2 separate regions of the Homo sapiens genome follow, and region 2 is linked to region 1. The links come from fine-mapping of genetic effects on gene expression. A gene starts in region 1. The other region holds a variant in brackets. All regions are shown on one strand. Distances are between the middles of the regions.

Evidence for each region. PIP is the estimated chance that this variant, and not a neighbour inherited with it, causes the effect.
Region 2: its variant is the best candidate, but not a certain one, in a credible set for the expression of FBXO30 in whole blood (INTERVAL, PIP 0.51).

What each region holds. Positions count from the first base shown.
Region 1 is chr6:145,812,577-145,817,961 of GRCh38, forward strand. FBXO30 (F-box protein 30) reads right to left here and starts at 2,219. Exons shown (of 3, transcript NM_032145.5): 1 at 2,027-2,219. All of the region lies in intron 1 of EPM2A-DT (EPM2A divergent transcript), which reads left to right. RefSeq lists enhancers at 1,628-2,182, 3,240-3,309 and a silencer at 1,860-2,399.
Region 2 is chr6:145,616,228-145,621,612 of GRCh38, forward strand. It overlaps a transcript of EPM2A not described here. Among named protein-coding and RNA genes, the nearest start is that of EPM2A-DT, 120 kb to the right of the region's middle. The variant A/T (reference allele first, on the strand shown) is at 2,976.

The sequences.
Region 1 (5,385 bases):
CCAATAGGATATAAACATGTAGTTCTCAGAAACCAGATGTACTTCGATTTGCACAACAGCCACACTTATATACACAAAAATTTTACGTGTAATTATTTTTATGAGATCATTAATTAAATGCAATCATATGAAGAACTACCTAGTAATAACATTACTCATTCTTTAAAAAAAAGATTTTCACAGACTGGGTTTTAACTGATCCGCTTGTCTGTATCTAACATCTAGCTACCTAAAATATAGAAGCAACTTGTCTAAGGCCAATCTCCTCTATTTCATCACACTGAATTTGAATTTATATTTTATACAGCCTTTGACTCAATTGTTTTATGTCAAAAAATTCTACAAATACAATGACATTCCATAATATGTACTAACTCCTTCTATCAAATAAGCAGTCTTAGGAACTGAATTAAAATATTTATCCAAAATCATACAGAATAGCATAGCGCTTATCCATTAAAATATTCACATCTTAGAAACATGTTATATCAAACAGTAAGCATTAACCAATGCCTATTTTGGTGACCTTAAAGTACCTCTCTATACACGTTAGCATTACTTATATAATATTGCTTTTTAATGATATATTAGGACACTTTTTAGAAGAAGTCTCCCAATGCTAGACCGGGAGAAATACTGGATTGAAATTAAATACCTAGTACACTTGGTATACATTAAAGTTTGCCTATATTCGAAACTTCAGTTCTCTTACAGCATTCACGAAACTCCACCATTTCCAGAATTAAAAAAAAAAAAAAAAGTTACGTCACGGCATTAAAGTGCTAGGTAAAAACAAATTGGCAATTTAAAAAGTCAGCAAAACACCATGTTATCCCCAATTAAACTTTTGTGATGAGAAACAGTGACTAAGCATGAAGAAGAGTGATTCAGCGGAAACCGCATATTGAAATCTAACCCTCTGAAAAATCCTAAAGGTTTATTTTATGCTACTCTTTTCCTTTTGCCATGTCAACAATTGGACTGCTTTGGAAAACCTTAGTATGAGCAAATGCAAAACCTGTTAATATAATTTCCATAGGTCTCTAAAGAACAAACAGTATTGAAATTTAGCAAATGGAAATTAAAATTTAAAAAGTTTGGGATTTTGTATTAAAAGATTTTAAATTAATCTACACCGATATCAGAATGCCCATAAATAACTTCATCTTGGATCAGAGTCAACGAAGTAATCATGGAATAAAAGGTCAATTCGTTCCCAAGCATCTTTTATCTGGGACTTACAACAGGGCTCAATAAGAAAAACAAGAGAAAGGGAGAGGGAAATGGAGTACTAGGACATTGGTAAACACATACTGTTTTGCCTCTTTGCCTCTATACTCCCAAATATACCCGTTAAAAACATACTGGCAGATTACTTTGAATTCAGCACGCGCTCTATAAACCCCTTCCAAGCAAAGGAGTTCCAAGGCGCAGGTCTTGGAACAACACAAATAACCTCAGGTCTGCAAAATAAGGAAGTTCCCCTTTAATAAGGACCGAGGCTAAGGCTAAGATCCTCTCACTTCCATGAATGGCAAAGTTACCAACTTTGCTCATCCCGTGCAGACAGTGGATGATGCCTCCCCAGTCTTACTTTAAGCCATTTGTCCCCAAATAACCCAAGTTTCTAAAAACCAGACGGAACGAGAAGCTTAGGGTTCCCTAAGTTTAACTCCTCCTTCGTCCCTTCCCAATACAAAGACACACAAACTGGGGGGGACACGGAGGTCGGTGCCCTCGAGGCTTAAGTCGCCATTTGCTGACCTCAACGGCTGGCCCGGCATGCGGCCCGGCGAGGACACGAGCGCGGCGGACGCCCTCTCAGGGCGCCCGGACGGCCGACCCGGGACGCGCATGGACCGGGGTCAGCCGCCTTTCCTCTGCTCCAGGCCGGGCCCGTCAACCCCACGGCCGCCAGCGCCAGCGCCTCGGTCCCGGCCGCGGCCTCAAACTGCCCGGCCGCTGCCTTCGTCCCCGCCGCAGCGCGGACGGCGCCGGCCTCCCCTGCGGGCCTCCCGTCACTCACCGGCCGGCGCGGCCGAACCGCGGCCCAGGCCCTAGCTGCCCTGGACGCCGTGCCCAGCTGCTCCGCTCTGTCCCGGCGACGCTCCGTACCCCACACAGCCGTCCGAACCGCCTCCTCCGCCCCTCTTCCCCAGCCGGGCCGCCGCCTTTTCTCTTCTCCCGGCCTGCTCCAGAGGCAGCCACCCTCCTCGCGCGCCCCGCCCCGCTGCGCCCCGCCCACCCGGCCCGGCTTCTGCCGACAGCTGGGCGGGGACGCGCACGCAGTCCCGGCGGGGACGCGCACGCCGCCCTCTGACCCCGCAGCGTCGTGGCTAGAGTAGGGTCTGGAGAGAGCTCCCACTGTGGCGAGTCCTGTCGTTGGATTCCCGCGGCGCCCCGTAAGGCTCCGCCCCGGCGGTGCTACCAAACCCTGTTCGATTTTAGAATCGTACATTCCCAGAGGGAATCCTAGACCCCTCATTTTACAGTTGAGGAAACAGGCCCAAGTAGCATGACTTGTTCGCGCCGCTAGTCGAAGGAGCAGCAGCCCCGATCCCTTGACTCTGGGGCACTGCTTTCCCTTTAGCTCATTTTTGGAGGAAATGGGTGCGCCCTTGCTCGACCTTTGGTGATTGCCGCCACAGGCCTTCCCGCCGGCTAACTCAGCGTGCCCAAGTCCCGTGACTTAGTGCCAGGACGGTGCTGTGACCCGTTATCCCCTGTCGGGTTTTACCTCCCCCCGGGAGAGCTCAGCCCTGGATCCCGGCGGGCGGCGGAGCCTCTCTGGAGCCCGGACGGGACAGCCCACCAGGGTCTGCTTCTGTGAGGGGCCGAGGCGTCATTCCGCGAAGGTAATTAGCTGGGGAGGGGACTTGAAGCCGCTTTTGCAGTGTACCTTACATATGACTGGGGAGTAAAGAAATCCCACAGGGCTGTATCAAAGAATGGATGGATGTCCACGCCCCCGCTACCACCACCAAGCCTTGGTCTACGGCCGAGGGACAGTGATTCCGAGCTCTGGGTGTTGGGAGCCGCTCACCCGCCCCCACCCCTCTGTCGGGGACTCCTGCCCACCCCGTCGCAAGAGAATTACAACAAAGGAAAGATGGTTGTAATCCTGGCAGTGGGGATGGGGGCAGAGCCAGGAAAACACTGTTGTCATCCTTTTTGTGGCTGCATCTTTACCCCTTGCTGTTGTGCTTTGGGAAAGAGAGCTCACACATAATTTGCTATCCTACAGAGAAAGCCTGTGGGTTTTTCAGATCCGTAAATTAAACAAAACAAAACAAAAACTGAGTTAGGAACTTAGATTACAGAGTAAAGGTTGATTCCTTAAATGATTAACTTTTTGAAAAATTATCTGTTCCCCTTATTTTGCCTGATTTGGCTGTAGACAGGCTCTGGTCCTCGGTTCAGACCTTGAGAGCCACTGTCCAGAGAGCTACATGGTCAGGATGGGGAAACAGGCAGGATGGCCCAGTGGGAGAGGATGTAGGTGCTGCTACACTATAGCCCCGCTCAATGCTCACTGTCCTGGATTGAGTCACAGACCTTTGTTTTGCTTTAGCTGTCCTCTTATAAAGGATCTAAAATAGATTATCTCTAGAGCCCTTTCCAGCTTTAAAATTCTGTGAATCTCTAATTATACTTATTGAGATCTGGGGCTTTACCTTTTACTAAGTCACCTAGCTGACACTAGGTCACCCTCACTCGCCTGAAGTTGAGTCATTCAGGTTGGAAACCTCATTGTCTTCTTTGTCCCTTCATCTCAATAATTTTCCATGTCCAGACAATTATTTAAAATCCTTTTTTTCTTTCACCTTCATCCCTAGTTACTGTTAAATCAAGTTTAGCCTAAAGCAGCCTCCTTACATATTTTACGTTCAGCCTAAAGGTTTCTGTGTACACCGTGAACTATAATAAGTGGAGGAGTAAACAGACCATAGCCCACACTTCTGTCAATCATTGAGTTTGGCCAATCAAATGTAGCCAGTTGTTCGAACCTTGTTCAAATAAGGCAAACCCCAACCTGTAACCAATCCAGCTGTTTCTGTACCTCAGTTCCGTTTTCTGTATGTCGCTTTCCTTCTTCTGTCCTAAATCATCTTCCACCATGTGGCTGCGCTGGAGTCTCAAAGCCTACTCTGGCTCAGGAGGCTGCCTGATGCGTGAATTGTTCGTTGCTCAAACTCCTTTAAATTTAATTTGGCTGAAGTTTTTTTTTTTTTTTTTAACATTACTGTCTTAAACAAATTTGGATGTCTGCTGTTGCCTAACCAGTCCTTTCTCCTGCAGTATCTCCTATCTCAAATCCCCTATCAACACAATTCTTCCTAAGACACCCATTTTATCTTGTTATTTTTATATTCACCTGGCTGGGATGATGTTTTAGTATGTGTATTAGGGTTCTCTAGAGGGACAGAACTAATAGGATAGATACACATAAAAGGGAGTTTATTAAGTATTAACTCACACGATCACAAGGTCCCACAATAGGCCATCTGCAAGCTGAGGAACAAGGAGAGCCAGTTTGAGTTCCAAAACTGAAGAACTTGGAGTCTGATGTTCAAGGGCAGAAAGCATCCAGCATAGGAGAAAGATGTAGGCTGGGAGGCTAGGCCAGTCTAGCCTTTTCATGTTTTTCTGCCTGCTTTATATCCTAACTGTACTGGCAGCTGATTAGATGGTGCCCACCTAGATTAAGGGTGGGTCTGCCTTTCCCAGCCCACTGACTCAAATGTTAATCTCCTTTGGCAGCACCCTCACAGACACACCTATGATCAATACTTTACATCCTTCAAGCCAATCAAGTTGACACTCAGTATTAACTGTCACAGTCTGTTTATGCTGCTATAACAAAATATTACAGACTGGGTAATTATAAATTACAAGAAACTATAATTATAAAGAAGAAAAATTTATTTTCTCACAATTCTGGAGGCTGGGAAGTTCAAGATCAAGGCATGGGCAGATTTGGTTGTCTGGTAAACATCCCATCTGTGCTTCTAAGATAGCACCTTGAACACCTCTTCCTCTGGAGAGGAGGAAAGCTCTGTCCTTATAGCAGAAGTTGAAGGGACAAAAGTCAAATTCCCTTTGCCCAGCCCTCTTATAAGGGCATCTAATCCCATTCATTAGGGCAGAGCTCTTAAAACTCAGTCACCTCCCAAAGGCCATACTTTCCAACACTGTTGCATTGGGGTTAAGTTTCAACATGAATTTTTGAGAAGGGGACAAAACCATTCAGACCATAGCAGATGGCTATCTAGAGCCCATGAGATACAGTCTCAACTCCTGTCTGCAGTTGCTCAAAGTAAATCTTTCATTGTAGCCTGATTTGTTTCCTTCTTTTCTCTACCAAACACTATGCACAGTCCAATT
Region 2 (5,385 bases), 200 kb before region 1:
GGCTGAAAGGGGCCAACATAGAGCTCAGGCCATGGCTTCAGAGCGAGCAAGCCTCAAGCCTTGGCAGCTTCCACGTGGTGTTGAGCCTGCCAGTGCACAGAAGTCAAGAATAGGGGTTTGGGAACCTCTGCCTAGATTTAAGAAGATGCATGGAAATGCTTGGATGCCCAGGTAGAGGTGTGCTGCAGGGGCAGGGCTCTCATGGAGAACCTCTGCTAGGGCAGCGAGGAAGGGAAATGTGGGGTCAGAGCACCTACTCAGAGTCCCTACTGGGGCACTGCCTAGTGGAGCTGTGAGAAGAGGGCCACAGTCCTCCAGACCCCAGAATGGTAGATCCACTGACAGCTTGCACTGTGTGCCTGGAAAAGCTACAGATACTCAATGCCAGCCCATGAAAGCAGCCAGCAGGGGGGCTATACCCTGCAAAGCCACAGGGGTGGAGCTGCCCAAGGCCATGGGAACCCACCTCTTGCATCAGCGTGACCTGGACATGAGACATGGAGTCAAAGGAGATCATTTTGGAATTTTAAGATTTGACTGTCCCACTGGGTATCGAACTTGCATGGGGCCTGTAGCCCCTTTGATTTGGCCAATGTCTCCTATTTGGAATGATTGTATTTACCCAATGCCTGCACCCCCATTGTATCTAGGAAGTAACTTGCTTTTGATTTTACAGGCTCATAGGTGGAAGGAACTTGCCTGGTGTCAGATGAGACTTTGGACTGTGGACTTTTGAGTTAATGCTGAAATGAGTTGAGACTTTGGGTGACTGCTGGGAGGGCATCATTGGTTTTGAAATATAAGGATGTGAGATTTGGGAGGGGTCAGGGGTGGAATGATATGGATTGGCTGTGTCCCTACCCAAATTTCATCTTGAATTGCCACATGTTGTGGAAGGAACCCAATAGGAGGTAACTGAATCATGGGGGCAGGTCTTTTCTGTGCTGTCTTCATGATAGTGAATAAGTCTCACAAGATCTGATGATTTTAAAAAGGGGAGTTTCCCTGCACAAGTTTTCTTCTTCTCTTGTCTGCTACCATATGAGATGTGCCGTTCACCTTCCAGCATGATTATGAGGCCTTCCCAGCCACATGGAACTGTAAGTCCATTAAATCCCTTCCTCCTGTGTAAATAACCGAGTCTCAATTATGTCTTTATCAGCAGCATGAACACAGACTAATACAAAGAGGATAGGCTAAAAACACAATATTTTATAGGATGTTACTCTGCTTTAATATAACTAAATACTAGTATTATATAGAAAGAGAAATCGTTATTAAAATGCTTAAAACAAAATAAGGCACAAAATGAAGATACTGATAGTACTTTCATTGAATAAATTACCCCATTCATTGACTTACAGGAAACTAAAGTTCTCATTTAATATTTTCTTCACATTTCTCTTAGATTGAAATATACATTAGATCTGGCCTGGTGCTGTGGCTCATGCCTGTAATGCCAACACTTTGGGAGACCAAGGCAGGAGTGTCACTTAATCCCAGGAGTTTGAGACCAGCCTGGGTGACATAGTGAGACCCCCATCTTTAGAACAAACTTTTAAAAATTAGCCTAGTATGATGGCAAACACCGGTAGTCCCAGATACTCAAGAAGCTGAGGTGGGAGGCTCACTTGAGCCCAGGAAGGTAGAGGCTGCAATGAGCTGTTATCGCACCACTGTACTCCAACCTGGATGACAAAGCAAGATCCTGTCTCAAAAAAAATTTTTTTAATTAAAAAACATAATAAAATACACATTAGATCTGAACACAGAATCCAAAGAGTACCTGGCTTAACTGTCATAGAATGGGCCAAAGCCTGTTTGCCAAGCACTGTTTACAGTTTCTACCTAATGATGTTATAGCTCATGTTATAGTACAGCACATTAAGAGGGGTTCTATGAAAATGCCTGGAAGAAGCACCCTTGAGGACTCATGAAGATGCCTCAGAGAGGGTGTCTTCAAAGACCCAAAGGATGAGTTGATGCTCACCAGATATAGATAGGAGGGAAGAGGATTCCAGGCAGAGGAAAAAATATGTGCAAAACCCCAAGGATACAAAAGATTGTTGAACCTTTAAGCAATTCACTGTGGCTAACAAGCACTTTTGGGAGATGGTTATAAGAATGACAACAGAGATTGGAGAGAAGGACACAGTACAAATCGTAAAGACCCTCATATGTCTGATATGGTTTGGTTGTGTCCCCACCCAAATCTCATCTTGAATTGTAGTTCCCATAATCCCCATGTGTCATGGGAGAAACCCAGTGGGAGGTAATTTAATCATGGCAGTGGTCATCCTCATGTTGTTCTCATGATAGTGAGTTCTCATGAGATCTGATGGTTTGATACAAGGCTTTTCCCCCTTTTGCTCAGCACTTCTCCTTCCTGCTGCTATGTGAAGAAGGTGGTGTTTGCTTCTCCTTCTGCGATGATCATAAGTTTCCTTAGGCCTCCCAGGCCATGCTAAACTGTGAGTCAATTAAACCTCTTTCCTTTATAAATTACCCAGTCTCAGGTATGTCTTTATTAGCAGTGTGAGAACAGACTAATACAATGTCACGTTAAGGATTTTTTACTTTTTTCTGAGAAAAACGAGGAGCCATTGAGGAATATTGAGCAAGAAAGAGACAGTAGTATATTTGAAGTAGAAAGGTCTCTCAGGCAGCAGTGTCAAGAATGATCTTGAAAGGGGTAAGGATTACAAGAGGAAGATAAGCCAGGAAGCTTTAACAATCCAGGTCAGCGTGGACAGAGGGGAGTAGTTATATTTAAGAGATATTTAGGAAGCATAATGAAAGTAATTTGTCAAATGGTTAGGAGGGTGGTAAATGGAGGAGAGATGGCAAAGATGGCATTCAAGTTTCTAACTTGGGAAATTAGGGGAAGATGTTGCCAGTGTCTGCTCAACAGAGAAAGTATGGGAGGTCTGGCAAAAAAAAAAAATTGGGGAATATTGAGTTTGGGAGATATTCTG[A/T]AAGATGTTTTGAAACAAATTGATATATAAGCCTTGTACTCAGAAGAAAGCAGTGGAATGGGGATTGAGATTTGGATATCATTACTATAGACGATGATTGAGAAAATTCTGGTTTAAACTGGCAAACACACTACTCCTCCTGACATCTGAATGGAAATTACAATATAAAATCTGAAGACAGAAATTCACCTGCAACAATGAAGAGGCAGTTAAGAAGGATTACTAGCAGATAAGATAGCTCAGGATGATAGAATGATTTTGGAAGTGAGCTGATGGAAAGCAAAGGAAGATGTGACTCAGAATACCTTATGAGGGGATGCAGTACTGCAGGAGAGCTGGGCACTCATAAGCTCACTGGAACCTTGAGAGTAACTGGGCTTAAATTCTCAGTAGTAATGGAATCTAGGATAGTTAAGAAAGCTAGAAATGGGGTGGAGTGGTAATCATAGGTCTGTCCGGCAATGAAGATTATGTCCCCACCAACATTTCTTTTTTGCCTTCCTCACAATTAAAAAAAAAATTTAAGAACACAAAAAGAAAAAGAGGAAGTATATCTAAAACAACTCATAATTATAGTTGTAATCATGTCAACATGAAGGAAGTATAAATACCAGTGAGCATAAGTCAGTGTTAAAGTTCTCCGTTGTAAGGAGGAAGACATAATTATAAAAAATAAAAAGCAAGAAGAGACACATAGAAAAGGTCAAAACATTTTTGAAATAAAAAAATGAACAAATGCAAACAGGTCTAAATATTATCAGAAATCCTAACATATAAACATGGCTTAAGCCCCTGAAACATATGAGGTGCTGAGCAGTAATTAGCATCGTTTAAACACCAGTCTATAAAGAATGAGGGATACTCACTTTGTTTATCCACTATGGGTGTAAAATCTCTGAAATTGTTTAGACCAGTGGTCCCCAACCTTTTTGGAACCAGGGACCAGTTTTGTGAAAGACATTTTTTCCATGGACAGGGAGGCGAGGGGAGTATGGTTTTGGGATGACACTGTTCCACCTCAGATCATCGTGCATTAGATAGATTCTCATAAGGAGCGTGCAACCTAGATCCCTCGCATGTGCAGTTCACAATACAGTTCACAATCCGCTGACAATCTGATGCCGCTGCTGATCTGACAGGAGGCAGAGCTCAGGCAGTAAAGCTCACTGACCTGCCACTCACTTCCTGCTGTGTGGCCCGGTTCCTAACAGGCCATGGACCACTACTGTGGCCTGTTAGGAACTGAGCCACAGGGGTTGGAGACCACTGGTTTAGGCCTTATTTCCATCTTTAGATTAGTCATTTAATATTAAGAAGGCAGCAATAAGGATTTCTATCAAATAAAAATATATAATTCCACTTTTAACCATTTTATATACAGCGAACAGTAAATTCTATTCAGTGAATTCTGAGTTTTCTCTCACTAGAAATTGATAAAGTCTTGATAAGTATGGTAATGACAATGACCTGTTCTGTTCAAGGTCCAGCTCTCCATTCTTTCACTGTCTAGTTTCTGCTAATTTTCTCCTTTATAATCCACACCATTCTGGTGCCATACTAGTTCATTTAATAGTAATTGCATATTGTTCAGTTTTTAAATAACAGCAATTTTTTCAGCCTTATTGAGGTATAACTGTCAAATATTGTATTATTTAGGGTGTACAATTATACATACATTGGGAAATGATTACCACAATCAAGCTAATTAACATATCCATTATCTCATATACCTCCCTTTTTTATGGTGAGGACACTTGTGATCTACTGTGTTCTTAGCAAATTTCAAGTATACAATACATTATTATTGTCATCATCATGTTGTAATTAATTAGGTCTCCAGGACTTATTCATCTTAAAACTAAAGGTTTGTACCATTTGACCAACATCTCCTCTTTCCTCCAACTTCTCAGCCCCTGGTAACTACCATTTTATTCACTGTTACATGAATTTGGCTTTTTAAAGATTCCACATATAAATGAGATTATGAAGTATTTGTCTTTCTGTGCCTGGCTTATTTTACTTAGCACAAGGTCCTCAAGTTTTAACGCTGTTGTTGCAAATGATGAGATTTCCTTCTGTTTAAGGCTGAATAATATTCCACTGTTTATATATCCACCACATTGTCTTTATTCATTCATCTGTCATTGGATACTTAGTTACCATACTTGACTATCACAAATAATGCTGCAATGAACATGGAAGTGCAGAAATTTCTTCAAGATACTGATTTTATTTACTTTGGATATATACCCAGAAGTGAGACTGCTGAATTAAATGGAAGTTATAGGTTTAATTTTTTTAGAAAACTCCATATTGTTTTCCATAACGGCTGTACTGATTTACATTCTCACCAAGACTGTGCAAGGATTCCCTTTTCTCCACACACCCTTGCCAACATTTACTATCTCTT